Regions from separate parts of the Homo sapiens genome. Here regions 1, 2, 3, 4, 6 and 7 are each linked to region 5. A link means that fine-mapping ties the variant in region 5 to the plasma level of a protein whose gene starts in the linked region. Region 5 holds a variant in brackets. A gene starts in each other region. All regions are shown on their forward strands.

Region 1 (4,076 bases), not on the chromosome of region 5:
TCTTCCCATGTTAAGTTGTGCCTGAAGAACCCATAGCAGCTATCTCCATAATATCTCCAGTTTGTGTCACAGGGGCTGCATTTATGACCTTCTGGAGAAACCAAGCACAGGAATGGTGTATTTTTTCTAAATTGGGCTTACATTTTCTTCACATTCAATGTTTTCTGCAGATCTCAAACTCCCTTCAGTTGCCATCAGAGAAATGCTCCAGGGGTTGGAGAGATGAAGAGGTTAAAAAAACAATACTTACTGAAAGTGCCCTTTAGTTCTGATTGTTTTACCACATATTGACAGAAGCGCTTTGCTAATTGTTGCAGAGTTCCTGTGCGATTTTCATTCTCACCTTGTAGGTAATTGCGCTGCATGACAGCTAGGTTTAAAAAGTAAATAATAATAATTTGTAATTAGAACCATAGAAATGATGCAAAGGTCTGTCATTGAATTTTCATTTCCTTAACTTTGCCAATATATGAGGAGTTTACTAGATACACATGATTAAATGAATGTTGAAAAGTGTGGAGGGGCTATAAAGAACAAATTAAGAAATACACAGAACTGACGCCTGAGGGTTAATAAGTGAACTGTTTGAAGGAGACAATCACAAATAAAAAATCCCAACATCGATAACATCCCCAGAGCCTGTATTCATTTGCTTGAATACAAGCTTCTCAGCTGAGTTATAGAGGTGAATGACCTCTTATTTTCTGTTCTTTCTGTGATGCCAAACTATTCATTCATTTAAAAATACATACTGATTTCTTGTTATGCTTAAAGTACTTGTGATATTCAGGTAAATAATAAAGAAATACAAGAGGATAAATGTTAGATTCTAACATCTTTTAAAAAAATCAACAAATACACAAACAAGCAACAACTACACAGACTTCAATGTGCTATTGGAGGGCCATGAGAATTACAGAAAGAAGAAATGCACAGTAACTTAGTAAACAAAATGAGAAACAGAAAATTTTAGGTAGAGAGAATAGAATGAGAAAAATTTCAGACAAGGGAACATGGAATTTATATATGAAATTGAAAAACTCCAGTTTGGCTGGTTCTTAGGAATGCAAGATAGGAAAAGGGATGAAAAAGTTTTTAAAAATAGTTTGGATCCACACTGAGGAGGGTCTTAAAGGCCAGTAGTACATTCTTAAAAATAACTTTTCATTAGTTAAAATCTTAAAATCTTATTTTAATCACAAGGAAACAGTCAGTGTTCTCCTTTATTGAGATTCTCTTGGCAACTATCTGTAGGACAACTGTAGAAGTGATAAACAGACAAATAGCGACCATTGAGAAGCTTAGTGGGATATGCCATGACCCTTCAGTATTACCTTCCTCCAGTCAAATTTCTGGCAGAGTCAACACTTACACCAAATCCCCAGAGCCACCAGCCCGACAACCATCCCCACGCACAGGATCAGCAGAATCAAAGCCATCACACGCCACCAGGAGGAGGATGCAGAGCCAACTGTAGGCATATAATAAAGACATCAAGGAGCAGGCAGTATGGGTTAGCTATGGGGAAGGCTCACCCCTGCCCCTGCCCCTGCCTTCTCAGGGTCCTCCAAGTAATAGAAAGAGCTTTGCTGGCAGATCTCACCTGTGTTCTCCTCATGATCATCAACAATAGGCATGGCCCACCCCTATACCATACATCCATTCTCATCTCCAATGCACTTTACCTCTCCAAGCTGAAATATTACTTGCTGTTAAGGCCTGATGTGTTTGTATTTTTTGTTTTGTTTTGTTTTGTTTTGTTTTGTTTTATGCTCACCCATGCCATAAATAATTGCTTTAATAAACAGCAAATGAAGAATCACACTCATTTGCTCACATATAGAAAATGAAATTTCCACTCTTTTCCGTTATCCCCTTGACTTCTATGCCCTCGAGTATTAAACGCTCAGAATCTTAATGCAATTTTCCCTGCACATATATTGGATGTTTGTAATCTAAATAGGTCTGTATGAGCTTATGAAAACACTACTCAAATGCTTTAGAGCATTAACATCATTCAAGAAAAAGAAATTAAACTATATATATTATCAATAGTAGAAAAAGAAAGAATTGAATCAACTCATTTTTTAAATTAATTTCCAAATTATTGGCTCTGAGCATTCTTACCGGAGATGAGAGCTGGTTTCCGAGTTTTAATATTTAAGGTGATGTATCCATCTTCATCCTGCATGGCTTCCCGAGTACTGCAACTGAGCTCAGAGTTCAATGACTTTGCAAAATGTAGTTTCCAACTTTACAATTTCAGTATCTGTCAGTTTATGATCTTCCTGTCTTTAGTAGGGTAGAACCATGTGAGATGGGACACATTTGTTTTCCTTTGCTTATTGTTTTCCAGGAAGCTTCTTCATAGCTGCTCAGAGATACATGGACCTTGAACACAAAAACACAAAAATAATAATAACTTGTGGTAAAGGAGTAGATAAGGTATTTGCTTCCTGCTTTTTTTTTATCTTCAACACTAAATAAAGGGACATTCCATCATGTGCATCCTTTCTAAGAACAAAAGTTCATGCTTTATCTTAGCCCTAGCTTAGTCTAAATTACATTGCTCAAATGAGAGATTTCTGCTGAAAATTCATGGATATAGCTCACCAGCAGATATATAGTTTATCTCATTGTGAGAAGCAAGTGTAATATAATTGGATCTGATAGGGGCTAAATTAGCTGTTTCATAGTCTTGTGTTGGAAGAGATCATTCCTGATTATGACCTAGAATTTACACAACTTCTTGCATATTTCATACTTTTTTTTATTTGAAGGATCCACATGAGGCAGGCCTGATATTGCTTAGATTTAGGTATTGAAGGAAAACTATCAAATCAAGTAAAATAATACAGAGTTGGTGACTTGCTGCATTGTTCTTTAGTAGTGTTTGTGCTTTAAAGTGAGTTTCCTGGAATGGAAGAATTTTGATTTGATGAAATCACTTCATTTCAAGTACAGCTGTGCTTAGATGAATATTTGAGACTGAATGGTTCCTAGCACCTTTTCATCACAATATAATATGTATTGCACACACTTAACTTTATGAAATGGGCTTTTACATTATTTTAGCTTGCACTGAAAGTAGTTGTAAGAACAGCCATACAAAGCTAGCTGATGCATTTATTATAGGAATATTGGGGAGGATGTTGTCTATTTTGCCATAGGGTAACTCTTACATAGTTTTATGGCAGATTTTTATTTTTGTTAAATCACCATGACTAGCAAAGCTTTAAGTAGTAGGCATTTACCTTATAAATAATTTGAATTCTATTTTTCTTTACTTAGCAGAGTGTTAGACTTTTCAATATAGTGATTATGTGGGCTGCAGTAGCAGATATTTTGTTTATTAACATGCCCTTTGGCATAGCCCGTAGATTTTTTCTCCCCTGCTATCTCCTTCACTCTGAATTTCTTGTCAATTCACTTAAAATTATCTTTCATTCTAAATTTCTTTCTCTATACTCTTCAAATTATTTTGAGAATGAGGTGAAGAATAAGCATAACACGTATAAAAGACATTCCCTGATTTTGGAAAGCCAAACTTAGTATGATTCAAATATTTTTACCAAAACTAATTCTTAATTAAAAAAAAACACATTTGAAATAAATGCCAAATTTTAAGAAAAGACTAAAAATTTTTAAAAAACATTAAATCCCAACACCATTTTTGTTGCTGTGTTTCTTATCTCAGTTAAAATATTCAGGGGTTCCCAATCATAAGCTGGGTAAATTCAGTCACTTACCATTCATCTACCACTGCTTCTGTTCTCATAACTTCTGTTTCAGCTAAAAGGGATTCTTCGCTCTCCCATCATTTATCCTCAGGCTTTTCTGGAAGATTGGGGTTGGAATGGGGTTTGATCCTCCCTCTCTTCCTTCCTTTCTACATCTACTCATCAGCAAGTCCTGAGGCTATTCTGTCACAGTAACCCCTGTCTTTCACGTTCTTTTGGTCACTGCTTTCCTTCAGTGTTTTGTTACCTAAAATATACAGAAACACTAAAAAATAATCGAATAAATAACTGTGACAAAGTAACAGAGAGAAAAGAAAATGTGTGGAGGTTATAGTA
Region 2 (4,066 bases), not on the chromosome of region 5:
ACCGCTGCCGGCAGCCCGCCCCACCCTGGGCTCCTCCCCACACCCGCTCGGGCAGCCGGGAGCCACCTACAAACTCCAGGACTCGACCCCAGAGCGCTGGCCTGAGCCGCCCCTGCTCGCCCCCAGTCCCCGCCTCTCCCTCCCTCTAATGCCCCCGCCCTCGACACCGTCGCCCCCCCGCCCCTGCCTCTCGCTCCCCACGTCTCTCGGCACCCCCGCTCCCATCCGCCCCCCCGTCCCCGCCTCTCGCCCCCATCCGTCCCCATTTCCAGCCTCCCCCTGACCCCGACTCAAGCCCCCCGACTCCGCCTCTCGCCCCTCTCTGCCCCCGCCTCTCACTCCCCTCTCCTTCCCCGCCCGCCTCTCACGTGGAGGTTGGGCCGGACCCGCCCCGCCCCACAGAGCCCGGGTCCCGCCCCCACGTGGCTGGCAGCTTCCTGGCCCTATCATTTCTGCGCTGGCTTCAGCGGCTCCGCCCCGGCGCCGTGCCAGGGGGCCGGACACTCCAGTCGCGCGGCACAGGCCTGAGGCCGCTGAGGGCCACCCCGTCCCCTGCCCGCCCGCCGGCCTGCTGGGATTGGCCGAGCGCCGGCCTCCGCCCGAGCCCGCGCGTTATGTAACGCGCCCCGGGGGCCCCGCCCCCTCGCCCTGGCTTATATAACCCGGGCGCACCGGCTCGCGCCCCGCCCCAGGGCCAATGGAGGCCTGCGGAGTCGGCCCCGACGACCAATCGCACGGCCCGGGGGCGGGACCGGTCACGCGGCGGCAGGGGGCGCGGCGCCGGCTGCTGACCGGCACGCGGCGAGCCTCGAGACTGCGCGAGGGCGGCCCCGGGGGCGAGCGGCTGTGCGCGGGGCCAAGGGCGGGGGCAGCAGGTGAGTGCGCGGCCGGGCGGGAGTTCTGGGCGGCCGGGCGGGAGTTCTGGGCACTCGCGCGCGGCAGAGGAGCCCCGCGAGCCCTGCCCTCGGTACTGGGGGCCCCCGGAGCGTGGCGCTTCCGAGCCACCCGCCTCCCCGGGCCCCATCCCTCGGCGCGCGGGAAAGTTGGGGCAGGGGTGAGGACCGCGCGGTCGGGGCGCCCCAGCCAGCCGGGCCGCTGGCGTCGGACTGTCTGTTCCATTTGTCCCTTGTCACCCTTGTCTCCTCCCCCTAGGCCGGAGTCCTGAAAGTCGAGCGAGCTCCGGGTTTTGAAAATGTTGGAGGGAAAAGCTCCTCGGAGATGAGCGTGACCCCCTGGCTCGTGGTGGCCGCCTGTTCTCACTAACGCCATGGCGGGGACCGGAGTGAGAAACCGGTGTCTGTCACTGACTGCAAAGTGAGCGAGAAGCAGGCTGCGGGCCGTCCCAGCACGACGTGGAGCCCCGCGGAGACCTCGAGATGCCCCGCGGGGAAGCTCCTGGCCCCGGGAGACGGGGGGCTAAGGACGAGGCCCTGGGCGAAGAATCGGGGGAGCGGTGGAGCCCCGAGTTCCATCTGCAGAGGAAATTGGCGGACAGCAGCCACAGGTGACGCGCTGGCTTCAGGCCGAGGGCCCCATGCGTTCGTTGTCCTTCCCTGGAGCAGGGAAAGGGGGACCTAAATCTTTTTATTCTTTTGTTTTCAAGCCCAGGGGAAAGTGTAAAGGGGAGACTCGGGCAATGTAGGATGAAGTGATCCGTGACACTGAAGAAAATTACCGAAGAGTATCAGGAGGGAAAAGTGGTTACAAAAGTTAGCTGAGTTGGGGCTCAAGTGGATTAAGGGAAAGTAAGTGGAGAATGTTTGTCATTCACCAGTTGCTTTGCCTCGAGTTCCCCACCTAGAGGAAGAGGGGTCACCACCCTGTGGACTGATGCCGGTAGAGCACTTAGAAACTTACCTGGCTTGCAGTTTGTGTTCCCTAAGCCGCAAGATGCTGTTGTCTTCAGAGGATGAAGTTGTAATTTTTTTTTATCTTCCAGTGAACAGCAAGATCGAAACAGAGTTTCTGAAGAACTTATCATGGTTGTCCAAGAAATGAAAAAATACTTCCCCTCGGAGAGACGCAATAAACCAAGCACTCTAGATGCCCTCAACTATGCTCTCCGCTGTGTCCACAGCGTTCAAGGTAAACAAGCCGGAGAGAAATTTCATCCTACGAATGCACCAGGACTCATACAAGCAGCCAGAGGAGTGGTCAGTGGGGTCTCAGTCAGACAAATAATTTGAGCTTTTTCTGGTGCTTTGTGGAAGATGAGCAAATCTACACCGATTCCATTCGTGTCTTAATTGTTCACATGTGAAAGACCAGGAAAACTTTATCTGTATAATAGTGTATAATACCTATGCAATGTTTTGCTCATGTGTTGCAAGAGAGTAGAGTTTAGCATAAGCACATTTTGAAGGCTGACCTTTTAAAGAAATATTGTCTTCTATGGAAGTTATGGGAAAAAAATGCATTCCACGAAATAGTTACCTTTACATGCCGTACACATACTTTCAAAATGCAGTAATGAGGCTGGGCGCGGTGCCTCACGCCTGTAATCCCAGCACTTTGGGAGGCCGAGGCGGGCAGATCACGAGGTCAGGAGATCGAGACCATCCTGGCTAATACGGTGAAACCCCGTCTCTACTAAAAATACAAAAAATTAGCCGGGTGTGGTGGCGGGCGCCTGTAGTCCAGCTATTCGGGAGGCTGAGACAGGAGAACGGCGTGAACCCGGGAGGCGGAGCTTGCAGTGAGCCGAGATCACGCCACTGCACTCCCGCCTGGGTGACAGAGCGAGACTCTGTCTCTAAAAAATAATAATGATAAAAATGCAGTAATGATATATCAGGAATTTACCAAACTAAAAATGAACCATTGTAAACACTTTTTCTCTCTGACATTTCCAGGGATTTCATTAAAGCCATATTCTCTTTAGCACAAACCTCAGTGCTTCATATATGATATGTTCCTGAATGACAGAGTACTGTTTCTGCTCCCCCCGCAAAAAAATTGTGTATGCATCTGAAATTTTTAGTTAGTACCTTAAATGTATCTTGCTTCCTGTGATCCAGAACATGCAGAATTCATAAAATCAAATCTTAAGTTTGCACAACTATCAGTATTTTAGGTAAAAGCAGAAAATGATCTGTTTTTGAGAAAAATGCACTGAGGTGTTCTCATCCGAAAAAAATAATCCAGCTTGATAGTGATGAAATGGTTTCCTAAAGATACTGTTGTCACTGGACTACCTGTTTATCTCCCTGTGTTTCTTAGCAAACAGTGAGTTTTTCCAGATTCTCAGTCAGAATGGAGCACCTCAGGCAGATGTGAGCATGTACAGTCTTGAGGAGCTGGCCACTATCGCTTCAGAACACACTTCCAAAAACACAGTAAGAATTCATGCATTTTGCCATATCAACCTGGGTGACTTTTCCTAAGGGCCTGCTCTAGATGTAGGCTTTTAAGAAGGATAACAACGTTTCAGCAACCACAATTTGAGAGAAGCAAAGGAGGAACTGCTAAAGAGGCATGGTGTAGCTTCTCCGCCCTTGCCAGAGAAAACATCTAAAAGCAGAAGCAGCCCGTTCTGTGTGCTGTGCAGCTCAGTGACTTTGGTTATGAGGTGCTTCTAGCTCCTTAGCATTCCCAAGCTCTCTTGAATTAAGAGAAAACAAAAATTACACTGCAGAGTAATTTCCTGCACCTTATTCTAATCTCCGAATTGTTAATTTCTATTTATATCATTCTTAGTTCCAATACCTACTACTTCAAGTTGTAACAACTGGATGTTATAGAACAGGTGAGTTGAGATGCTGTCATTTTTCCTAAAATTTTGGAAGAGACCTTTAGTATATCTTTTTTAATCTCTCTTCTTGTTTGACAGAGTAATCTTCATGTTTGGTTGATACGGTGGAGATTACTTATTTTAAGTAACATAATTGTTACTTAAAGATTTTGTAATAGTGGAACGTGCGCAATCCCTAGTATTATAACAGTGCTTATTTTATGGACTGGTGTGTACATAGTACTGTAGGAGGTGCTATGGAGATTTTTAAAAATAGCTTAAGAAAATATTTGTCTTTTAAGATATTTAAAATAAAGCTAGAGAGGAAAGTATGCC
Region 3 (4,065 bases), not on the chromosome of region 5:
GGCTGAGGTGGGAGGATCCCTTGAGCCCAGGAGGTCAAGGCTGCAGTGAGCCAAGATCACTCCATTGCACTCCAGCCTGGGCAACAAGAGCAAAACTTCCATCTCAAAAAAAAAAAAAAAAAGAAATAATCTAAAAGTGTTTTCAATAATAATGCATTTATGTTGATTACCTTGTTGGCTATCCTCTACTCGTGTGCCTGCCCCACTCCATTCCCCTTTCTAGAGTCTGTTCACGTAACTCCTCTTCCAGGAAGCCCTCTTTGACTCCCAGGCTTGGTCAGGTGTCTTCTCTGGGTTTCCCCAGGGGCTTCCTTCCTCTCAATTCTGATGCTGCCTGTGCTAAGTATTTGTCTCCATATCTGTCCTGAGAACCTTGGAGCCAGGGCTCGGGGCTGTTTTTGCATGGGCCTATCACCTCCTCCAGGAAGCCCTCCTTGGCCCTCTCTCAGGCTGGATGGGAAAGCTGTCTGGGCTCCCATCATGCCCTGGTTTTCTAGCGACCCAGCCTCTGATCCCTAAGCTTGGCCTTCCCCATCACAGCTTTCATCACTTTGTGCTAAGCTTCCGCTATCACTACTCTGGGCCGTTCCTGTTTGGTGACTCAGGGACCAGTCTGGCATGGCCACCGCTGGGTCCCCAGCATTAAGCCCTGGAGCATGAGCCCAGTGAACTTTGAAATTCAGGAAGGAATTCACAGGAAAGCTGCGGCGAGGCGGGCAGAAAACCACAGGCTTCCAAGAAACGCGTGTCTGCCGCCCCCTCCTCCCACCCTGAGGCCAGTCCTAGAGCGAAGGCCCTCCTCCGACGTCGTCACCAAGCCCAAGGGAAGGGTGGCAGGTGCTCAGCGGGCAGACGCCCCGCCCCGCCCCGCCAGGTTCTGTTGGGGGCGAGGCCCGCGCAAGCCCCGCCTCTTCCCCGGCACCAGGGGCGGGCCCAGGTGCGCCCAGGGCCGGGGAGCGGCCGCGCAGGTGCCTGCCCTTTGCGCCTGCGCCCAGCTCGCCCTGCCTAGCCAGGTGCGCCCCGCCCCCTGCCTGCCCGGCCACCTTCGGGAGCCGCTTCCAATAGGCGTTCGCCATTGGCTCTGGCGACCTCCGCGCGTTGGGAGGTGTAGCGCGGCTCTGAACGCGCTGAGGGCCGTTGAGTGTCGCAGGCGGCGAGGGCGCGAGTGAGGAGCAGACCCAGGCATCGCGCGCCGAGAAGGCCGGGCGTCCCCACACTGAAGGTCCGGAAAGGCGACTTCCGGGGGCTTTGGCACCTGGCGGACCCTCCCGGAGCGTCGGCACCTGAACGCGAGGCGCTCCATTGCGCGTGCGCGTTGAGGGGCTTCCCGCACCTGATCGCGAGACCCCAACGGCTGGTGGCGTCGCCTGCGCGTCTCGGCTGAGCTGGCCATGGCGCAGCTGTGCGGGCTGAGGCGGAGCCGGGCGTTTCTCGCCCTGCTGGGATCGCTGCTCCTCTCTGGGGTCCTGGCGGCCGACCGAGAACGCAGCATCCACGGTGAGGGCCGGGCGGGTAGGCTGGAGGCGGGGCGCAGGGGGCAGAGGCTCGGGGGTCAACGGGGGTCTGAGCAGGGAGAACTGGCGGGGGAGGAAACTGGGGGCTACTTGATGGCGTTCAGCGGGTGTGGTGGAACCAGCCCTGGAGGATTGAGCCTTGAAATGAGGTTTGGGAGCCTTCGACAGCGAAGACGGGCGGAGGAGCGAGGGTTAGGAGAGTTTCCTTCGGGTGGAGGAAGAGTCAAGGGGTATTGACCAAGAAGGCGTGGCACTGCCCCTTCCTGTGGCAAGAACGGGGTGAGGAGCCGAATTGAAGACCAGCCTTCTCCTGGCGGTGGAAAGTTCCATGGCCAAAGCTCAGGGAGAGGCCAGGCCTGTGAGATGGTGGGGGTTGGGTTGGGTGACCTGGTGGCCGTTTTAGACTCGGAAGAAGCCCATCTCACCCCTGCCTCTTTGGAGATTGGACAAGAGCCTCCCCTGAAGTTTTTGTAGTTGAGTTGCAGTAAAGTAGGTGCCCGAGAAGGAGGGAGCAAGAAAGGAAACAAGCTTTGGGGAAGAGGAAGCTCTGCTAAGGCTCGAGAGAGTATTGGCGTTGAGCAGCTGGTGTTGGGGTCTTTGGATTGGCCCTTAGAAGTCGGTGGTGAATAAGGTGATTTAAACTTCTACACTCTTAAGGAAGTGTGGTCTGAAAGGTCTCTTTGAACAAGTGTTGTTATAACCTTAACTGCTTCAGACAAGCACCAGCGTGTTTTGAAAAGAGCTCTCTTGAAAGCAAGAATTCATTGATTCAGCAAAACTTACTGAGGCCCTGCTACGTGTCAGGCACTGGCGCTGGTTATAACAGTTAACTCAGACTAGCTGGGTTCCTGCATTCACAGAGCTAATATTCCAGTGGGAGAGGCAGAGCTAGTGAAGGTTTAAAAAGCACTTGCCATGAGATTAAGTTACTGAGAATTAAATGAACCAGGTGAAGTACACCAACAGGGTGACGTAAGATGTTGGGGGCGGCTTTAGCTCAGGTGGTCGGGGGACGTCTCCGTGAGGAGGGTGACATCTGAGCTCTAACATGAAGAATGAGGCAGTAGCCACACGGAGACCTGGGGGACCAGTGTCCAGTTGCAGGCAATAGAGTACAAAGGCCTTGAAGCTGGAACAAGCTTGGTTGGGTTCAGGGAAAAGACAGAGCCAGCCTGGCTGGAGCAGGCGTGAAGGAGGGGAGGACTGGAGGAGGATGGGAGGTGGGAGAGGTTGGCTGCAGCCAGATGGCCTAGGGCTTTATAGACAGGTGCTGGTGCTTGAACCCGGGAGGCGGATGTTGCAGTGAGCCAAGATCGCGCCACTGCATTCCAGCTTGGGCAACAAGAGTGAAACTCCCATCTCAAAAAAAAAAAAAGAAGGCCGGGTGATGTGGCTCATGCCTGTAATCCTAGAACTTTGGGAGGCCAAGGCGGGCAGATCACTGGAGGCCAGGAGTTCAACACCACCCTAGGCAACATGATGAAACCCCGTCTCTACCAAAAATACAAAAATTAGCTGGGCATGGTGGTGCACACCTGTAGTCCCGGCTACTCGGGAGGCTGAGGCAGGAGAATCGCTTGAAGCCCAGAGGCGGAGGCTGTAGTGAGCTGAGATCAAGCCACTGCACAGCAGCCTGGGCGACACAGCAAGACTCAGTCTCAAAAAAAAAAAAAAGAGCAGGCTAGGTGTGTACCAAGTCATCACCTGTGGTAACTTCTGGGGACTGGTTAATTTCTCTGTGCCCTAGGCAGGAGAAAAAAGTGAATTGGTGGGGAGAGGCTCAGCTGTAGGTGACTGGGAGTCAGGAATGCAGACGTTGATCATTCTTGCAATTCGAACCAGAATTTGGCAGCTCTGCTGGACTTTTTCAGTTTAAGTAATTACGTTAGGATGTACCTCCCAGTTACCTGGCCTCTTGCTACCTCTGGTGCTTACTCTGAGCTGGGACATGGCCTCTTGCTACCTCTGGTGCTTACTCTGAGCTGGGATGTGCCATTTAACCTTTGAAACAGCCGGGTGCGGTGGTGAAGTTACTTGCCTTGCCCGAGGTCACTCGGTAGTAGTAATTGACAAAGCCAGGTCTCACTGCAGAGGCCTTCTCTGTTCAGAGTGGCCTACCTGACTGCTGCTGCCGACTGGACCTACTGACCTTTCAGAAGTACTAGTGTCTGACTGGGTGAACTCATGCCCTCACTCATCGTAAGTTCTGTTTGTTTGAAAGCTTGAACAGCTTAATCGGAGGCAGAAGGCAGTTTTGACTTTTTTTTCCTCGCTCCTTCCTGATTGCTTCTGTTTTCTCCGGAAGCGAGTCATCCACTGGGAGTGTGGTGTTGCTGAAGCTCCATGCAGTGGCTCAGGTGCTGCTGGATGAGTGTGGTGGTGAGGGAGGAGTGAACAGAGAATGTGTGAGGGAGGGAGGATGGGGGTTGGTCAAGGAATTTATTCTGTATGAAAACATGAGGGGGCGGAGGGCCGAGGTAGATGGTAGGGCCAGCAGATTGTTGGAGTTGAGGTTCTGAAGGGAATGAACCAGACAGATAGGATGCAGTGG
Region 4 (4,073 bases), not on the chromosome of region 5:
TTGGAAAGGGTGTGAGGCTTCTTCCCAGGATGCTGGGTGCTTGTCACTGACCCTGGTGCTGAACAGATCTTCCTCGGGTGCCCAGAGGGTCGAGTTTGGCAGGACAATCCCCCCACCCCGACTGCAGGCAGGCTGCCAGACTAGGAGCAGAGGACTTCTGAGTTCTCAGTGACTTCTGTCACTACACCCTGAGGGGTGAACCTCAAATTTTCCCAATGTCATCAGGGGACCATAGACCTGCCTTTGAAGTAGCTTGGAAACAGGGACAGATGTTCCTTGGAAAGAGAGTCAGACTCTAGCAATGAATAAAAGGCACTCATTTACAAGGCTTGAGTGGAAGCTCAGAAGTCCTGGAGCCCAGGCATCAGAGAGACATTGAGACAAGTCCATTGGTAAGAGTGAGAGTAACAAGAAGGGTTTCTGCATTCTGCTTCAGGAACAACACCAGCCATTTATCCATTCACTCACTTAATCCAAAAACTATGTATTGAAGGCCTACCATGTGCCGAGATATATTCCATTAAAGAAAAGAAACAGAAACCTCTGTCCCATGCAACTTACATCCCAGTAGGATGGGGGTGGGGGTACAGGTGGGAGACAGATAGTAAACAGCAGACATAAGTAAGCGAATGGCCTAGCATGTCAGAGGATATAAGCATTTCAGCAAAAAAAAAAAAAAAAAAGAGCAGAGGAAGAGATGGGGATGGCATGCAATTTGACTTCACTGAAAGATGTAATCTAAACAAATACATATATATATTTATAATATATATAATATATATTATTATCTATAATATATATAATATATATTATTATCTATAATATATATAATATATATTATTATCTATAATATATATAATATATATTATTATCTATAATATATATAATATATATTATTATCTATAATATATATAATATATATTATTATCTATAATATATATAATATATATTATTATCTATAATATATATAATATATATTATTATCTATAATATATATAATATATATATTATAATATATATAACATATATTATATATAATATATATATTATAATATATATATTATATTATAATATATATTATAATATATATATTATATTATAATATATATTATATTATATATATTATATAATAATATATATATTATAATATATATATTATATTATATATATGTTATATATATTATAAATATATATTTTATATATATATAATATATATTTATAATATATATAATATATATTTATAATATATATAATATATATTTATAATATATATTATATATATTATAAATATATATAATATATATATATATATATTTTTTGAGATAGAGTCTTGCTCTGTTGCCCAGGCTGGAGTGTAGTGGTGTGATCTTGGCTCACTGCAACCTCTGCCTCCTGGGTTCAAGTGATTCTCCTGCCTCAGCCTCCCAAGTACCTGGGACTACAGGCACCTGCCACCACGCTCAGCTGATTTTTGTATTTTTAGTAGAGATGGGATTTCACCATGTTGGCCAGGCTGGTCTCGAACCCCTGACTTCAAGTGATCCACCTGCCTCGGCCTCCCAAAGTGCTGGGATTACAGGCGTGAGCCACCACGCCCGGCCTAAAAAAGTTTGAAAAAGGTGAAGGAGTGAGTCCTGCAGGTATCTGGGGACAACATTCCAGGCTGAAAGAACAGTCCGTGCAAACCTCCTCAGGAAGGAGCATGTCTGTCTGGTTGGTTTGAGGCATAGGGAGGAGGCCAGGGTGGCTGGGGCAGAGTGAACCAGGGAACCAGGAGATACAGGTGGGCAGAGAGCAGGGCACAGAACTCGCGGGGCCTCGTGGCTGCTGGAGGGTCTTGGACTTGTCCTCTGCGTGAGGTGGAGAGCCACGGGGACGTTCTGAACACGGGAGATTCATGGTCCCTCTGCTGCTGTGCTGAGAATACACTGTAGGGGGCAAGGATGGAGACAGGGAGAGCACCCAGAAGGCAGTTGTAGGAAGCCAGGGATTGATGCTGGTTTCTGGGTGTATTTGGAAAGCAGAGACATGAGCTCACCCAACAGATGGGAAGTTGGGGGCGAGAGGAAGAGGCGTCAGGGATAGCGCCCAGGTTTCTGGCCCTAGTAACCGGAAGGAAGGGGCTGGCAGAGAAGGAGGAGAGAGCAGGTGTAGGGGTGGGTGGGAATCAGAAATTCAGCTTCAGACTTGGGGGGTTGGAGCTGCCTATTTGGTATGGCGAGTAGGCAGCTGGACGTAGAAGGAGGCTGGAGTTTGCGAGAGAAACTTGGGAGTGGTTGGCATATAGATGATATTTAAAGTCAGAAACGTGTACTATTTGCCAGATATAAGCAGTAAGGCAGTTGATGCAAACCAAAGCCTTCTAATGTAATTATTGTTATTATTTTCATTTTGCAGCTGTAGAAACTGAGGCTCAGAGAGAAGTGACTTTGAGCTCACAGTGTCACCGCCTGCTGATGGGAGAGCTGAATTCAAAACCAGGTGACCTGACCTAGAGTCTTTGCTCCTAACCCCTCCACTGTGAGGTGACCCCCTCGCTGGATCTTTCAGGGCATGTGTTAGATGAGCGGTGGATGGACTTTGGATCAAGGGAAGATAATCCATACAAGAAGGGGACAGGAGTTTGGAAGCAGCAAACCAAGTCACAAAGTGAGGGGACGCACTGGCCCTCAAGAAAGCTCAATGTTGGGGAGCAGGGAGATGAGACTGAATAGGAAGGAGGGGCTAGATGGAAGGTACAGCTTCAAGATTGGCCTGAAAAGTTTTGACTGGATGGGGAAGGAAGCAGGGAGCCATTGACGGTTTTGGAGGAAGGGGGCATTACATGGTCAGGGCAGCCCTTGTGAAAGATCCACCACATGTGGGCATGCAGCTGATGAGGGAGGTGTCAGGAGAGACCAGAGAGGAAGAAATAGGCCCAGAAGTTTTTGAGACTCTCTGGGTGTGAAGGATGAGGGCTGAGCCAGTGGAGATGAGAAGGAAGCAAGGAAGCCAAGCTCCCACTGAAGACAGCGCTGGGCAGAGTCTCTGCCTGATGTAATGTGGGGGATGGAGGCGAGGAATGAGTCAAGGGCAAAGTTTCAGACTTGGGGGCAGATGGGGAGATGGGAAACAATGCTGGCTTGAACAGAAAAAAAGGAGGCTGGTGTGAGAGGGAACTCGGTTTTGCCCTTCTGGTACCTGGGGCTGAGTGAACCATAGCAGGACAGACTTCTGCTTCCCAGCAGCTCACAGGTTAGTGTGGGGGACAGAACTGCACAGAGCTGGCCAGGCTGCAAGGCAGAGAGAGCTGAGGGGTGCCACAGAAAGATGGGCCGGAAGGAGGAGTGTCCAGGTGGGTGTGTCTGATTAGTTACTGGTCAGGGCTGGAGACAGAGATTTAAGAAGTATTTATCAGGCCAGGTGCGGTGGCTCACGCCTGTAATCCCAGCACTTTGGGAGGCCGAGGCAGGTGGATCACGAGATCAGGAGATCGAGACCATCCTGGCTAACACGGTGAAACCCCGTCTCTACTAAAAATACAAAAAAAAAAAAAAATTAGCCGGGCATGGTGGCGGGCGCCTGTAGTCCCAGCTACTTGGGAGGCTGAGGCAGGAGAATGGCGTGAACCCGGGAGGTGGAGCTTGCAGTAAGCCGAGATAGCGCTGCTGCAGTCCAGCCTGGGCGAAAGAGCAAGACTCCGTCTCAAAAAAAAAAAAGAAGTCTTTATCCAGAGGTAAAAGATCTGGGGTAGATGATGTCAGGGAGGAAGGGAAGGTTGCTTGAGGCAAAAACAAAGTCTAGGACAGAAGCCCAGGCTTGCTCCTGCCACCAGCTAGCTCTGTGCCCATGAAGCAGATTTATTTTGTTGTTGTTGAAATGGAATCTTGCTCTTTTGCCCAGGCTGGAGCGCAGTGCCACAGTCATGGCTCAGTCGTGCACCACCATGATTGGCTAATTTTCATTTTATTTTTTTTGTAGAGACAGAGTCTCACTATGTTGCCCAGGCTGGTCTCAGACTCCTGGGCTCAAGCGATCTTCCCACCTCAGCCTCCCAAAGTGCTGGGATTACAGTGGACCAGTTGCTTAAACTA
Region 5 (4,076 bases):
AATGAAATAAATTTAAAAGCAATATCCAAATTATTATTGAGATTCTAGAGGACATAGAATTATTTAATCTTTATTATTCAATTTTGGACCTCTACTACTGGTACATAATCGGTATTCAATAACTGCTCTTTAAAATAAAAATCTAATCGAATTGAATTTGCTTATCAGGAACATTCTCACTGACTCCACCCATATTCTCCATCTTTCCCATCTCAATGGCATAATTTATAATTTTGCTGAGGCATGACTTTTTGTTGAGCCTCAGATTTCATTGATGTTGACATTGTGAATGATATCTTCCTTCTTAATATTCATTTTAATCTGGGCTCAGGACTACCATACTTTCCTATTTCTCATATCTCTCTGGGTCTTAGCTCTTTTTAATTTAACTGTGAGTGTTTCCCAAAACACTTCTGGCCTTTCTTCTCTTCTCCCTCTGTTCCCAGTGCCTCAGGGAGCTTATCCACTTGCAAAGCTTCAGCTACTAATTTACAAATGACATTTAAATAAAAAAATCTCTAACCTTGGCTTTTTACCCTTTCTCTAATAGCACATTTCAACTGTTTTGCAAGCTTTCCCATTTAATTCCTCCAACTACACAGTCACAAAGAGAGTTTATTCCTGTCTCCACAGACAGCCTCTCTTTTCCATGACTTCCAGCTTTCAGTCACCTTTAATCCTAGTCCTCTGCCTCTCCTTTCGTACCTCTGCAGGGAGTCCATTCTCTCAATTATCCTGTGTCTTTTCTGCATTTCTACCTCTCCTTCTCACATCTCAAATGCTATTCACACACAGTTACACATACCCATACCTCTCTCCTTTTGCCTGTAACTACTACCATCTCTTTTTCCTTCTATTCAGAGTCAAACATCTTCCAAGACTCTCCATTTCATGTCCAGAAACCAAGCATCATAACTCCTGCTTTCGTAATGATTGTTCTCCTCTTTCTGTCCTGCTACCACTGCTTTAGTCGAAAGCCCCACCGCTTCTCTCTTGATTATTACAATATTCTTCTGTTCTCTCTTGTCATCTTTTTATTTACTCAGACCACAGTATGTCCTGAAAGCAAAACTACAGTAGTCACTTAACTCCTGTGCTTTAAAATCATTCTAAAGGGCACGAGAATACCCCAAGGTTTTGGTAAAGCCTAAAAAAGGCCTTCCTGTTACTCACCTCCCCAGGTGATGCTCACCTCCCCAGTTCTGACCCCTTTTCCACTCTCTTATAGACTTTAGGCATTCTGAACTACATGCAGTGCCCTGAATGTCCATTTTTTTTCCACATCCGTACATTTGGTCATGCTGTTTTATCCTCCTGGAAACCCCTATTCCCCCCTCCCCACCTATCTCTCTTCATCTCACTAAGTCCAATACTTATTTAAAGACTCTGCTCAAAGTCACTTCCAAGGTAGACCTTCTCTGAAGCCTCCTGTCTGGAATAGATAACCACTCTTGGAGTATTTCCCTGGTGCTCTAGGTTTACTAGGATAAGAGCACTGATCACATAACTGTGAGCTCCTGTTTGCTTGTCTATCTCCCCTGCAGACCATATGCTTATTATCTATTTTTTATCTTTCTATCCTTCCCACTTAGAACAATGTCTAGCTTATACTAAGAGCTCAATGAATAACATTGAATGAATCAGCACATT[A/T]ATTTTTTCCTTTCACTTTTCTCCATATCAGGAACAGCTGCACACCCCTCCTTATTCAAGACCCTGCATCCTTCCTGAGGCTTTACATCCATGTCTGTTTCGTCTGTGATCTTGCTTCATCTGCCTAACTCAGCAGAGCAATTACCACAGGAAATGCTATCTTGTACCTGTTTTATTTGTTTATAGACTTGCACTTTTATTTTAGTCTCGTTTGAGAGGAAACTTCAGTAGGACAAGATAACTATGTCTATTTCTTCAGTTTTTATCTCATAAGGAGATATGCCCATGATGGTTTCTTGAGAAAAGTTGACTAATTTCGGTGTAAGATTTGCAACCCTTGGATGCAGCTAGGAGGATGAGGTGTTGCGCCTAGTGAGGCAATTATGATTTGTTTACAACAGACTCAGTTTTAGATCCCTCACTATGACATGGGTGAAGGCCAAGAAGGTGTTCTGCTCTACCATGCTTTCTGTGAAGTCTCATCCAGCCTCACACGTTCCAGTGACAAACCATCTGGGAAATTCCATCTGTCTCTGCTTGGAAACTGAGGTGGCAGTCGCCCACTGTGAGCAATTTTCTATTAACTTCTTGGATAAGATCAGTCAGATTTATACTGAATTGATGGGAACCGTAAGAGCAAGATTGTTCCAAGAGAAGACAAATGTACTGATTCCTCTAATTGGGCTTAAGCCAGTTTCATTCACAGACGCCCTTAGGTTCTAGTAGTGCAAGGACTTATAACCTTTTTAATTGTACCCTGTTCCTCTTGGGAAACATTGGTGAAATTCATTATTGATGGAGGTTGTAGATTTGTCCCTTAGGGAGGGCAAGATCCTGGCTTCTCTTATACTCTATCTGCTATGTGGAGAATTAATGGAAACTGAGTGGACAGAAAAGCTGCTCAAAGAAGACTTGAAGGCAAGAAATGTAATGCAGCAGAGCCTTGGAAAGTGATGCGTTGGTTTGGTTTCTAGAATTAGGGTAGGGTTTTTGTTGTTTTATTGATTTTTATTTTTATTTATTTTTTTTTTGATGGAGGGGGATTACTCAGGGAAAGAGGAGAAAGAAGTTTGTGTGGAGGCCTCAGTAATCAAAGGCCTGCTATTGAATGTGAGTCAGAAAGGAAGAAATTAAACACCGAAGAATTATTTCACAATTGAAATATGTAGAAGCCAGAGAGGTCAATTGCATATTAATCTGAAGGGATTTGCTGTGTTATAATGCAGATATAGTTATGATGTTGGCAGTGGATGAAAATACATTGTCATATGGCACAATGGTATTGAAATGAAAACCTGAATTTGTGCCCTTCCTGATAATTTTTACTTGCCTCCAAAATAATACCTTTTGTGTATAGCTAGCCTGTTAACCTCAATCTCATCCTGACTTACTTTTTCTCCTGATGGTGAAGTCTTTCCAGGTTCTTTACATTTGGACTTGGATTTGAAAGGTGGAAACACAATTCCTTGCTATACATAGACAATTTTATTTATGGACCTAACTTACTCTCCTCTGCCTGAAATTTTAATACATTTTGGCCTTTGGTTTATATGGCTAAACCTATTTACCCTTAGTTAGGCCAAGTTTGAACTTTTAAAAAGAATTATTTTTACAAGATTATTCATTGTTCCCTTTTCCCAGAACTCCAAGGAGAACTTTTGTTGAAGATGATCTTTTCAGTTATTAGGACGATTAGTGCTATTAATTTAATTAATTTCTGAAAGGAGGAATTGTTTATGTCATCATAAGATGATCAAAGCTGATCCACTCTATGTGTGTAAAGTTGAGACAAATGAGTCACATAACCTTTTCCCACAGAGGATCGGTGTGAAGGATGAAGAATCACTATTGATTTATAGCTCCAGATACTGTTTGTGGGAGTTGTGATTGTTCCCACACATAGGGATCCTTACATGAATTTTCTTAATGCAGATTTCATTGCTACTGTCATTTCTTCGTATTTGCCAAAAACAGAATCATGAAGGCCTAAGGTGGAAGTGGGTGGATATATAGCATCCCTGCCTCTCTAGGGAAATCTATCACCATCTTGACTAGTGAGGAAGTGGTTTGTAAAGCATAACTATTGTTTTTGTAACACAAATTCTAAAATATCAATCTTGAAATGTAGTTTTCCCTGGAGGGGAAGGTAGAAGTAACAAAGCACTGTGAGGAAGAGTTGTTCATGGAGTTGACCAAACTGTCCTCTGTTATGTGCTGATAGGTCTGGCATGCCTTTTAAATTCTTTCTATTTGATGTTTTTGAGGAATTGTCATTCTATACTGATTTCAAAACAATTAGTTTGGCAGGATATGCTTACATGGTTGTAACAAATATTGTGCCAGCATTATGAGGACTTAGCATCAATCTCAGCTTGACATGACAATTAATACATTCAGTAACTTGGAGATGATAACAGAGAGAATGG
Region 6 (4,000 bases), not on the chromosome of region 5:
TCTGGCCGCGGATGGCCTCGATGCGCTTCCGCTTCACCAGCTCCATGTCGATAGTCTTGCAGGTGGATAGTCCCGCGGCCGGCCGGCCAGGCGTCAGCACCAGTAGCCACAGCAGCGGTAGCAGCAGCGGCAGCAGCCGCAGCCCGGAGGGCGGCATGGGGGAGGCGGCGCCCCCCGGCACTGCCGAGAGCGCGAACAGGGCTGGTGTGGTGGGGAGGCCCCGCCCCTGCAGGGGCTGGGGGTCTCCCGGCAAAAGGTAGGAGGGCCTCGAGGGAAAGCTGAGGTCCTCAGGGAGAAGGGCGCAGTGGTGGAGGGGAGGCTTGGACCGGGGGTGTCTCAGTATCCCACGGAAATAACCTAGATGGGCGCGATCTGGTACCAGAAGGTGGGTGGTCTTGAATAGGGGATCTGTGGCAGGTCGGAGAGAGATCCGTCTCCTGGAGGAGAAAGGGTCTAGGATGCGCGGGGGCTCAGGAGACAGGCCGGGGATGAAGGCGGCGTGCAGGGGGTGCGCCCGAGGTCTGGGGAAAAGTCTTTGCGGGAGGCCGGGTCGGCGACTCCCGAGGGCTGGTCCGGAATGGGGGCGCCTGAGGGACGCCGTGTAGGGGGCAGGGAGGGAGCAAGCGTCCCCGGCGGCAAAGGGAGGCGGTCTGGGGTCCCCAAGTCCTGCCTCCTCGCGGGGCAGCGTCGCGCCAAGAGGTCCCCGCGCCTCCGGCTCCCAGCGGCAACGGAAAAGTCTCAAAAGTTTTTTTCCTCTTCTCCCGACCAGCTCGTCCCTCCTCCCGCTCCTCCTCCCCCTCCTCCCCGCAGTGGCGGGGGCGGCGGCGGCTCGTCTCAGACTCTGGGGCCTCAGGCTGCTCCTCGGCGACTCCTTCCTCCGCTCCGGGCCGAGGCCGGCCCCGCGGGCGGCTCAGAGCCGGGGGGGTGCCCCGGACGGGGCGTCCCCCCTGCCCCCGGCCGGGGCCCTCGCTGTCTGGCTGCTCCGCGGAGGGAGGTGGGAGGGAGATGGCCCAGGGCGCGAAGGGCGGCGGCGGCGGGGACCGGCTGGGTCGGCAGGGGGTTTTGAAGCCGCCCCCGGCCCCACCCAGGAAGCGCACGGGGCGGGAGCGGGGGCGGCCCCCAGGGGGAGGGCATGGGGGGGCTGGGCCACCGTCCTCATCTCGCGTGGGCGGGCTCCGAGGGGGGTCCCTTCAGCCCTGGGGGAAAGGGGGCGGGCACCCCGGCTCCGCCCCGCAAACAGGGTGCTGCCTCCTGGCGGCCAAGCGCCACCAAAGCGGGTGATCCAGATGCGCTGTGGCTTTGCGGGCGGTGTGGGTCACCAGAGAAAGAGGACCAGGCGGAGAAGGCTTAATCCGGGGGATGAGACACAGGGGAGCCGACCAGAGGAGGGGGACCCAGAACGGAAGGAGAGTCAGGCTGGGAAACAAGGTAGGAGAAGAGGGTCTGTCAACATGGGGGCCTCCGGAGGGTGTCAGTGGGAGGAGGGGGCAACAGGACACCTGAAGGATGGAAGGGTCAGGAGGCAGACACCTGTAAGAATTGCTCTCCTTTACTGAGCACCTCCCATGTGGCTAAGCAGCCTCCTGTCACTCAACACCCTGCGACCCCATACATTTACTGTCCCCAATTTACAGATAGGGAAACTGGGCCCAGAGGGACCCCGAGGTCCTAGAAAGGACAGAAGCGGTGCCATGCCTTAGCTGGGGTCAGCTCTGACAGTCTCTAGAGTCTGTGCTCTTGACCACTGTGCCATCCTCCCCCATCACTGGGTGTCCGGGGTGTGGATGGTGGTGACGTTGGAGGCAGAGTCCCTCAGCACTCCACGCCGTAGCGGTCGAAGTTGCGGAGCAGCAGGCCGATCTCCAGGTGCACGGTGCCACCAGCAGCTGTGTGCAGGCGATAGCGGTCGGCCCCACTGTAGATGGTGTCCCCATGCAGCAGCTGCGGCCCACCACCCACGAAAGCCCGTGCCAACTGTTCTCGCCAACTGCCCAGGGGCCGCCACGTGGGGCAGGCCAGCTGGTGGGTGCCCGGGCTACTGGGCACATGGCAAAATCCATAGCCTGCAAGCTGGCAGCGGCCAAAGCTGTCCTGGGACCACACCTGGAAATGGAGCCGGGGCCAGCCTGCAGGAAAGGAGAGAGAGGGGAAAGGAGGGATGGGTGGGGACCAGACTCCTGCTGATTCCCCACTCCCTGATACTCACTGGAGACCCCAGGCCCAGTCTTTTCCTCTCTGGGTTTCTGTCCCAGAGTTTCCAACCCAGCCTCCTTTCTAGGCTCCCACCGTCTTATCTATCCCCACACAGCAGCCAAAGTGATCTTTCCAAATCCATGTTACTCCCCTGCTAAGGATCCTTCCATAGCTCCCCAGTGCCCTCAGTATAAAGTCCAACCTCTTCAACATTCAAGGCCCTTCTAATCAGACCTCTGCTGAATTTCCTCTCTGTGTTATCCTCCTCCATGACCCCATGTCAGGGCAGCCCATTGCTCCTCCAGTCCCCAGGTAACCATCATGGGCCTTGTCAGGGACACCTCCTGCCTTCCCTCATGTCCCTGCCCTGCTCTCTTTGGGCCCAGGGCCTTCTTTCTTGCCCCTCTCTAATCCACCTTCCACCTGGCATCTGGAAGCATCTTTCTCTCCTTCCATAGCTTTGCCCATGTCCTCAGAACACAGTTCAGCTCCTCAGTCTGGTAGTCAAAGCCCTTGGAGATCCAGCCCCATCTCATCTCATGCTGATCCCTTCTCCTGTGCTAGACTCTGTTCTAGCTAGCTGGGGACACGGCAGACATGAACATGGATGGCAGACAAAAATTCCTGCCCCCGTGAAGCTGATATCCTAGACAACGAATGTAGTAAATAAGCAAATTATAGGGTAGATCAGATGGTGGTAATTGCTGTGAGGGAAAACAGAGCTGGGTAGGGTGAGGGTGGGGATACCGCTTTAGCAAGAAGGGGATCAAGGAAGCTTCATTAAGAAGGTGACATTTGAGCAAATGCTAAAAGGAAGGAAGGGAGTAGGCCATGTGGCCATCTAGAGGAAGAGTGCTCCTAGCCAGAGGGAACAGCAAGTGCCAAGGCCCTGGGGGGGGACTGTCTGGTGGGGACAGTATGGCTGGAGCCCAGACGGAGTGTGCCTGGTGGGGACAGCATGGCTAGAGCAGAATGAGGTGGGGAGACGGGAAGGAGGTGCCAGCCTGGTTGTGGAGAGCCTTGTGATGCATGCTAAGACTATGGCTTTCACCCTGAGTGAGATGGGGACCATTGGAGGGTTCTGAGCAGAGCAGAGATGGGACCTGACTTAGGTGTTCACAGGGTCCCAGCTGCATGTGGGGTGCAGACCAGGGGGGTTGGGGAAGGGGACTCCAGAGACAAGATTCTTGTCATAGTCCATGTGAGAGAAGAACTTGGACAGATCAAGGTGCTGGGCGAGAAAAGGGTAAGAAGTGGGATTTAGGATGTATTTCAAAAGTAGAGGCAGTTTAAGATTTCCTGATGGACAAAATGGGGGCTTGAGAAAAGAGAAAGCAAGGCTGGTGCCACCACTGGGGGACTGGAGGCCCCAAGAGCTGAAAGGTTAGAGCTGCCCACCTCACCCACACAGCACCGGAAAGATTTTTTTTTTCCCCAGCTCCAGCTTAAAAGACAGAAAGATTATTTAAAAGTGAAATCTCAGCCAGGCGCGGTGGCTCATGCCTGTAATCCCAGCACTTTGGGAGGCCGAGGCAGGTGGATCACCTGAGGTCAGGAGTTCGAGACCAGCCTGACCACCTTGGTGAAACGCCATCTCTATTAAAAAAAAAAAAGGCAAAAATTAGCCAGATGTGGTGGCACGTGGCTGTAGTCCCAGCTACTCGTGAGGCTGAGGCAGGAGAATTGCTTGAACCTGGGAGGCAGAGGTTGCAGTGAGCTGAGATCTTGCCACTACACTCCAGCCTGGGCAACAGAGTGAAACTCTGTCTCCAAAAAAAAAAAGGTGAAATCTCACTTGTCCATTACC
Region 7 (4,076 bases), not on the chromosome of region 5:
GGCTATTTGTATATTTTCTTTGGAGAAGTGTCTGTTCAAATCTTTTCCCATTTGAAAATTAGATTATTTGTTTGAATTGTAGGGAATACAAGTTATTTTACTGCGTGTAGCTGCTCCCCAGGTTTCTGGATGCCATTGTTAAAAAATATCATGACTTAGATTTTATCCCCGTGCTCCTGGAATCCTCAGGTTTCTGTGACACAGAGTTCAAGTGAGAGTTCAATCATTCTAGGGACTACTCAGCACCACAGTAGCACCTACAGAGATCATCTGGAGGGAGTGATTTTGTCTCAACAGACGGATCTTCAATGAAGATGAAACAAATCCATTTTGGAGAGAGATGTTAGAGAACTGATGGCGTTCAGGACATGCTACCCAAAAATAATGGTACCTTGGCACTTAAGAAAAGAGCAGAAGCAAGAGGGTTACTTTCACTTTCCCCAGATCTTCTCTTCTGAGGCAGACCATAAGACCTTCATTCCAGAGGTGCCTTCCCTATACCTGGAGGAAACAGACATCCTTATCTCTGAAGACACACGGACAGGGAAAAGAATCTGAGCAAATAGGCCTTGCTAAGTAAGTCCCCCCAGTTTATTACCATTAGATCACAGATTTGTCCAATCATACTTCTCCATGACTTCCACTTCTTTATCAATCCTAGCCTTAAAAATACACAGGCTTCCCTCTTAACTTTGGGTCTTAATTTCTGAAGTCTCCTGTTTTGTGTAAAACTCACATAAATAAGTTAGTATGTTTTTCTCTTGTTAATGTGTCTTTTGTTACAGGGGCTTCAGCCATAAACCTAGTAATGAATGGGGAAATTTTTTTTTTCCTCCTCTATAGAACATATACCAACTGCAAGAAGAAAGAAGAATATGCCTGGTTTTGGGCCTGGCGCGGTGGCTCACGCCTGTAATCCCAGTACTATGGGAGGCTGAGGCGGGCAGATCACCTGAGGTTGGGAGTTCGAGACCAGCCTGACCAACATGGAGAAACCCCGTCTCTACTAAAAATACAAAAAATTAGCCCTGCGTGGTGGTGGCGCATGCCTGTAATCCCAGCTATTCGGTAGGCTGAAGTAGGAGAATCGCTTGAACCCAGGAGGTGGAGGTTGCGGTGAGCCGAGATCGTGCCATTGATCTCCAGCCTGGGCAACAAGAGCAAAACTCTGTCTAAAAAAAATAAATAAATAATAAAAATAAAAACAGTATGCCTGGTTTTAAAGCTTCAAAGAATTTACTCATTCTCCTGTATGTAACATTCTAGAAATGCATCTGGAGTTAAAGCCTTCTTGGAGACTTAAGAACAAATGCACTTATGCATGGCCTTTTGAAACCTAATGTTTCTACAAGGAGGCACGTCCATACTTGCAACTCCTTCTAGAAGCTTCCCCAAATCTCCTGCCTCCCCACGCTGAGTTATCCGATGTCTGAAATGTCACAGCACTTAGTCTTACTCTTCTATGGCCTACTTTCTACTGCTATTTGTGTTACTCATGCTACCCATCTTATCTCCCTCAGTGTGTGAGACGCTGGCATCAGATTTGGCATCTCCCACACACTCAACATTATGTGTTGCACACAGTAGGTACTCAATACATGCAAGTTTTCTGAATAGATATTTTCCTAGTCATCTGTGGCACCTGCTATATCCTACTGAAAATTACCAAAATGCAATTAACTTCAATTTTACATTTGGGATTTACAGAAAATAACTCTCTCTCCAAGAAATGCATAACAATTTAGCTAGGGCAAATGCCAGGTCCGAGTTAAGACATTAATGCGCTTCGATCGCGATAAGGATTTATCCTTATCCCCATCCTCATCTTTCTGCGTCGTCTAATTCAAGATAGGTCAGTAAAGGAAACCTTTTCGTTTTAGCAACCCAATCTGCTCCCCTTCTCTGGCCTCTTTCTCTCCTTTTGTTGGTAGACGACTTCAGCCTCTGTCCTTTAATTTTAAAGTTTATGCCCCACTTGTACCCCTCGTCTTTTGGTGATTTAGAGATTTTCAAAGCCTGCTCTGACACAGACTCTTCCTTGGATTGCAACTTCTCTACTTTGGGGTGGAAACGGCTTCTCCGTTTTGAAACGCTAGCGGGGAAAAAATGGGGGAGAAAGTTGAGTTTAAACTTTTAAAAGTTGAGTCACGGCTGGTTGCGCAGCAAAAGCCCCGCAGTGTGGAGAAAGCCTAAACGTGGTTTGGGTGGTGCGGGGGTTGGGCGGGGGTGACTTTTGGGGGATAAGGGGCGGTGGAGCCCAGGGAATGCCAAAGCCCTGCCGCGGCCTCCGACGCGCGCCCCCCGCCCCTCGCCTCTCCCCCGCCCCCGACTGAGGCCGGGCTCCCCGCCGGACTGATGTCGCGCGCTTGCGTGTTGTGGCCGAACCGCCGAACTCAGAGGCCGGCCCCAGAAAACCCGAGCGAGTAGGGGGCGGCGCGCAGGAGGGAGGAGAACTGGGGGCGCGGGAGGCTGGTGGGTGTGGGGGGTGGAGATGTAGAAGATGTGACGCCGCGGCCCGGCGGGTGCCAGATTAGCGGACGCGGTGCCCGCGGTTGCAACGGGATCCCGGGCGCTGCAGCTTGGGAGGCGGCTCTCCCCAGGCGGCGTCCGCGGAGACACCCATCCGTGAACCCCAGGTCCCGGGCCGCCGGCTCGCCGCGCACCAGGGGCCGGCGGACAGAAGAGCGGCCGAGCGGCTCGAGGCTGGGGGACCGCGGGCGCGGCCGCGCGCTGCCGGGCGGGAGGCTGGGGGGCCGGGGCCGGGGCCGTGCCCCGGAGCGGGTCGGAGGCCGGGGCCGGGGCCGGGGGACGGCGGCTCCCCGCGCGGCTCCAGCGGCTCGGGGATCCCGGCCGGGCCCCGCAGGGACCATGGCAGCCGGGAGCATCACCACGCTGCCCGCCTTGCCCGAGGATGGCGGCAGCGGCGCCTTCCCGCCCGGCCACTTCAAGGACCCCAAGCGGCTGTACTGCAAAAACGGGGGCTTCTTCCTGCGCATCCACCCCGACGGCCGAGTTGACGGGGTCCGGGAGAAGAGCGACCCTCACAGTGAGTGCCGACCCGCTCTCTCCGCCTCATTTCCATTTCGTGGGTTCTCGCCCGCTCTCTCCCCTCCAGCCTGCACCCTCCTCCCGGATCTTCACTGCGACCCTAGCGCTCCGTGTGGTTTCTGGCCGCGCGGCCCTCGGCGGTTTCGGGTTCACCACTCACCCCCTCCTTTCCGGGCTGCGGCGTAGGCCCGGGTGTCCCCTGGGCTTTGGGGTGTGCCAATTTGCCCTGTAAACCAGTACCCCCGGCCCGGAGCCGCGGCGCGCCGGGGCCTCGCGGACTGGCTGTCTTCCCGCGGACAACCTGTCGCGTCGGGGATGCCCGCGGCCCCGCCATGCAGCTCTGGCCGCTTCTATCTGCTGCGTGCTGTCCCGGGGACAAAGACAGGAAGGACCGCAGCAGAACGAAACGGTCTTTACTGGAAAAACACCTTTCTAGAGTCCTGCCCTTAAATTCCGACTCGGGACGACCCGAGGCATATGGCACACTACTCTCACCCACTCTGTTTTATATTTTTCCGAATTGACGAAAGCTGAAAGAGCAAAAACAAAAACCAACCAGCCAACCAGCAAAAAATCCAGATGTTGTTAATAAAGTGCCATAGCTTTGTTTCAGTAGTGAAAAGAAGTGCAAACACTTTAATCTTCCACCTGCAGTGACTAGCTTTGAGACCTTGAGCCGACGCTTAACCCCAGAGCCGGTTTCCTCATCGCTCACGTGGGGCTAATATATTACTACCTTGCAGCAGGCTTGAGGATGAAATGAGAATTGCAGTTTTGCTTTCTGTAAGAAACAATGTTTGTGGTTCTAGAAAGAACACTGGCCTAAATAAGGAGTGCTTGGACTTTAGGGGATTCCCTAAGTCTGGAGTGGGGGCTGAAGATTTGCATTTCTAACATGTTCCCCGGGGATGCTGATCACATCACACTTTGAGAGCCACTGGTCTAGAGGAAAGAGAAAGAAAGGGGCATAAGATGAGCCGATTTACAACACTGATGGAATTTGAAGTGAGAGAAAGAGGACTAGAATA

Which allele goes with the higher level. Alleles are on the strand shown, and positions count from the first base shown. The strength of an association depends on the size of the effect and on how common the allele is.
For the plasma level of the protein whose gene starts at base 2,212 in region 1, allele A in region 5 goes with a higher level than allele T (moderate association).
For the plasma level of the protein whose gene starts at base 790 in region 2, T is the low allele of the variant in region 5 and A is the other (moderate association).
For the plasma level of the protein whose gene starts at base 1,072 in region 3, allele A in region 5 goes with a higher level than allele T (moderate association).
For the plasma level of the protein whose gene starts at base 2,412 in region 4, allele T in region 5 goes with a lower level than allele A (moderate association).
In carriers of allele A in region 5, the plasma level of the protein whose gene starts at base 1,035 in region 6 tends to be higher than with T alone (moderate association).
For the plasma level of the protein whose gene starts at base 2,525 in region 7, allele T in region 5 goes with a lower level than allele A (moderate association).

Evidence for each region. PIP is the chance, under the fine-mapping model, that this variant and not a neighbour inherited with it causes the effect. The UK Biobank Pharma Proteomics Project read protein levels with antibody pairs (Olink). The fine-mapping took linkage between variants from a reference panel, not from the people measured, so its PIPs are less certain.
Region 1: it holds the start of CLEC1B, and the variant in region 5 is fine-mapped to the plasma level of the CLEC1B protein (UK Biobank, PIP above 0.99).
Region 2: it holds the start of PER3, and the variant in region 5 is fine-mapped to the plasma level of the PER3 protein (UK Biobank, PIP above 0.99).
Region 3: it holds the start of SPINT2, and the variant in region 5 is fine-mapped to the plasma level of the SPINT2 protein (UK Biobank, PIP above 0.99).
Region 4: CCL17 starts here. The variant in region 5 is fine-mapped to the plasma level of the CCL17 protein (UK Biobank, PIP above 0.99).
Region 6: it holds the start of TGFB1, and the variant in region 5 is fine-mapped to the plasma level of the TGFB1 protein (UK Biobank, PIP above 0.99).
Region 7: FGF2 starts here. The variant in region 5 is fine-mapped to the plasma level of the FGF2 protein (UK Biobank, PIP above 0.99).

What each region holds. Positions count from the first base shown.
Region 1 is chr12:9,996,910-10,000,985 of GRCh38, forward strand. It overlaps CLEC1B (C-type lectin domain family 1 member B), which reads right to left and starts at 2,212. Exons shown (of 6, transcript NM_016509.4): 1 at 2,128-2,212; 2 at 1,373-1,471; 3 at 251-370; 4 at 1-91. The coding sequence starts at 2,191. It also overlaps a transcript of CLEC12A not described here.
Region 2 is chr1:7,783,502-7,787,567 of GRCh38, forward strand. It overlaps PER3 (period circadian regulator 3), which reads left to right and starts at 790. Exons shown (of 22, transcript NM_001377275.1): 1 at 790-875; 2 at 1,153-1,504; 3 at 1,940-2,085; 4 at 3,220-3,335. The coding sequence starts at 1,377. RefSeq lists a silencer at 256-865.
Region 3 is chr19:38,263,502-38,267,566 of GRCh38, forward strand. SPINT2 (serine peptidase inhibitor, Kunitz type 2) reads left to right here and starts at 1,072. Exons shown (of 7, transcript NM_021102.4): 1 at 1,072-1,497. The coding sequence starts at 1,392. RefSeq lists an enhancer at 1-620 and a silencer at 777-1,096.
Region 4 is chr16:57,402,356-57,406,428 of GRCh38, forward strand. CCL17 (C-C motif chemokine ligand 17) reads left to right here and starts at 2,412. Exons shown (of 4, transcript NM_002987.3): 1 at 2,412-2,481.
Region 5 is chr8:105,567,650-105,571,725 of GRCh38, forward strand. The region is part of intron 4 of ZFPM2 (zinc finger protein, FOG family member 2); the gene reads left to right. Among named protein-coding and RNA genes, the nearest start is that of ZFPM2, 250 kb to the left of the region's middle. The variant A/T (reference allele first, on the strand shown) is at 1,651.
Region 6 is chr19:41,352,888-41,356,887 of GRCh38, forward strand. It overlaps TGFB1 (transforming growth factor beta 1), which reads right to left and starts at 1,035. Exons shown (of 7, transcript NM_000660.7): 1 at 1-1,035. The coding sequence starts at 157. It overlaps B9D2 (B9 domain containing 2), which reads right to left. Exons shown (of 4, transcript NM_030578.4): 4 at 1,530-2,126. The coding sequence ends at 1,813. RefSeq lists silencers at 1-47, 208-287, 588-657, 808-1,337 and enhancers at 1,338-1,487, 1,411-1,912.
Region 7 is chr4:122,824,307-122,828,382 of GRCh38, forward strand. It overlaps FGF2 (fibroblast growth factor 2), which reads left to right and starts at 2,525. Exons shown (of 3, transcript NM_001361665.2): 1 at 2,525-3,046. The coding sequence starts at 2,869. RefSeq lists promoters at 1,384-2,566, 1,735-2,702, cis regulatory regions at 1,759-1,829, 1,830-1,868, silencers at 2,368-2,847, 3,188-3,482 and enhancers at 3,068-3,147, 3,430-3,955, 3,828-3,967, 3,956-4,076, 4,008-4,057.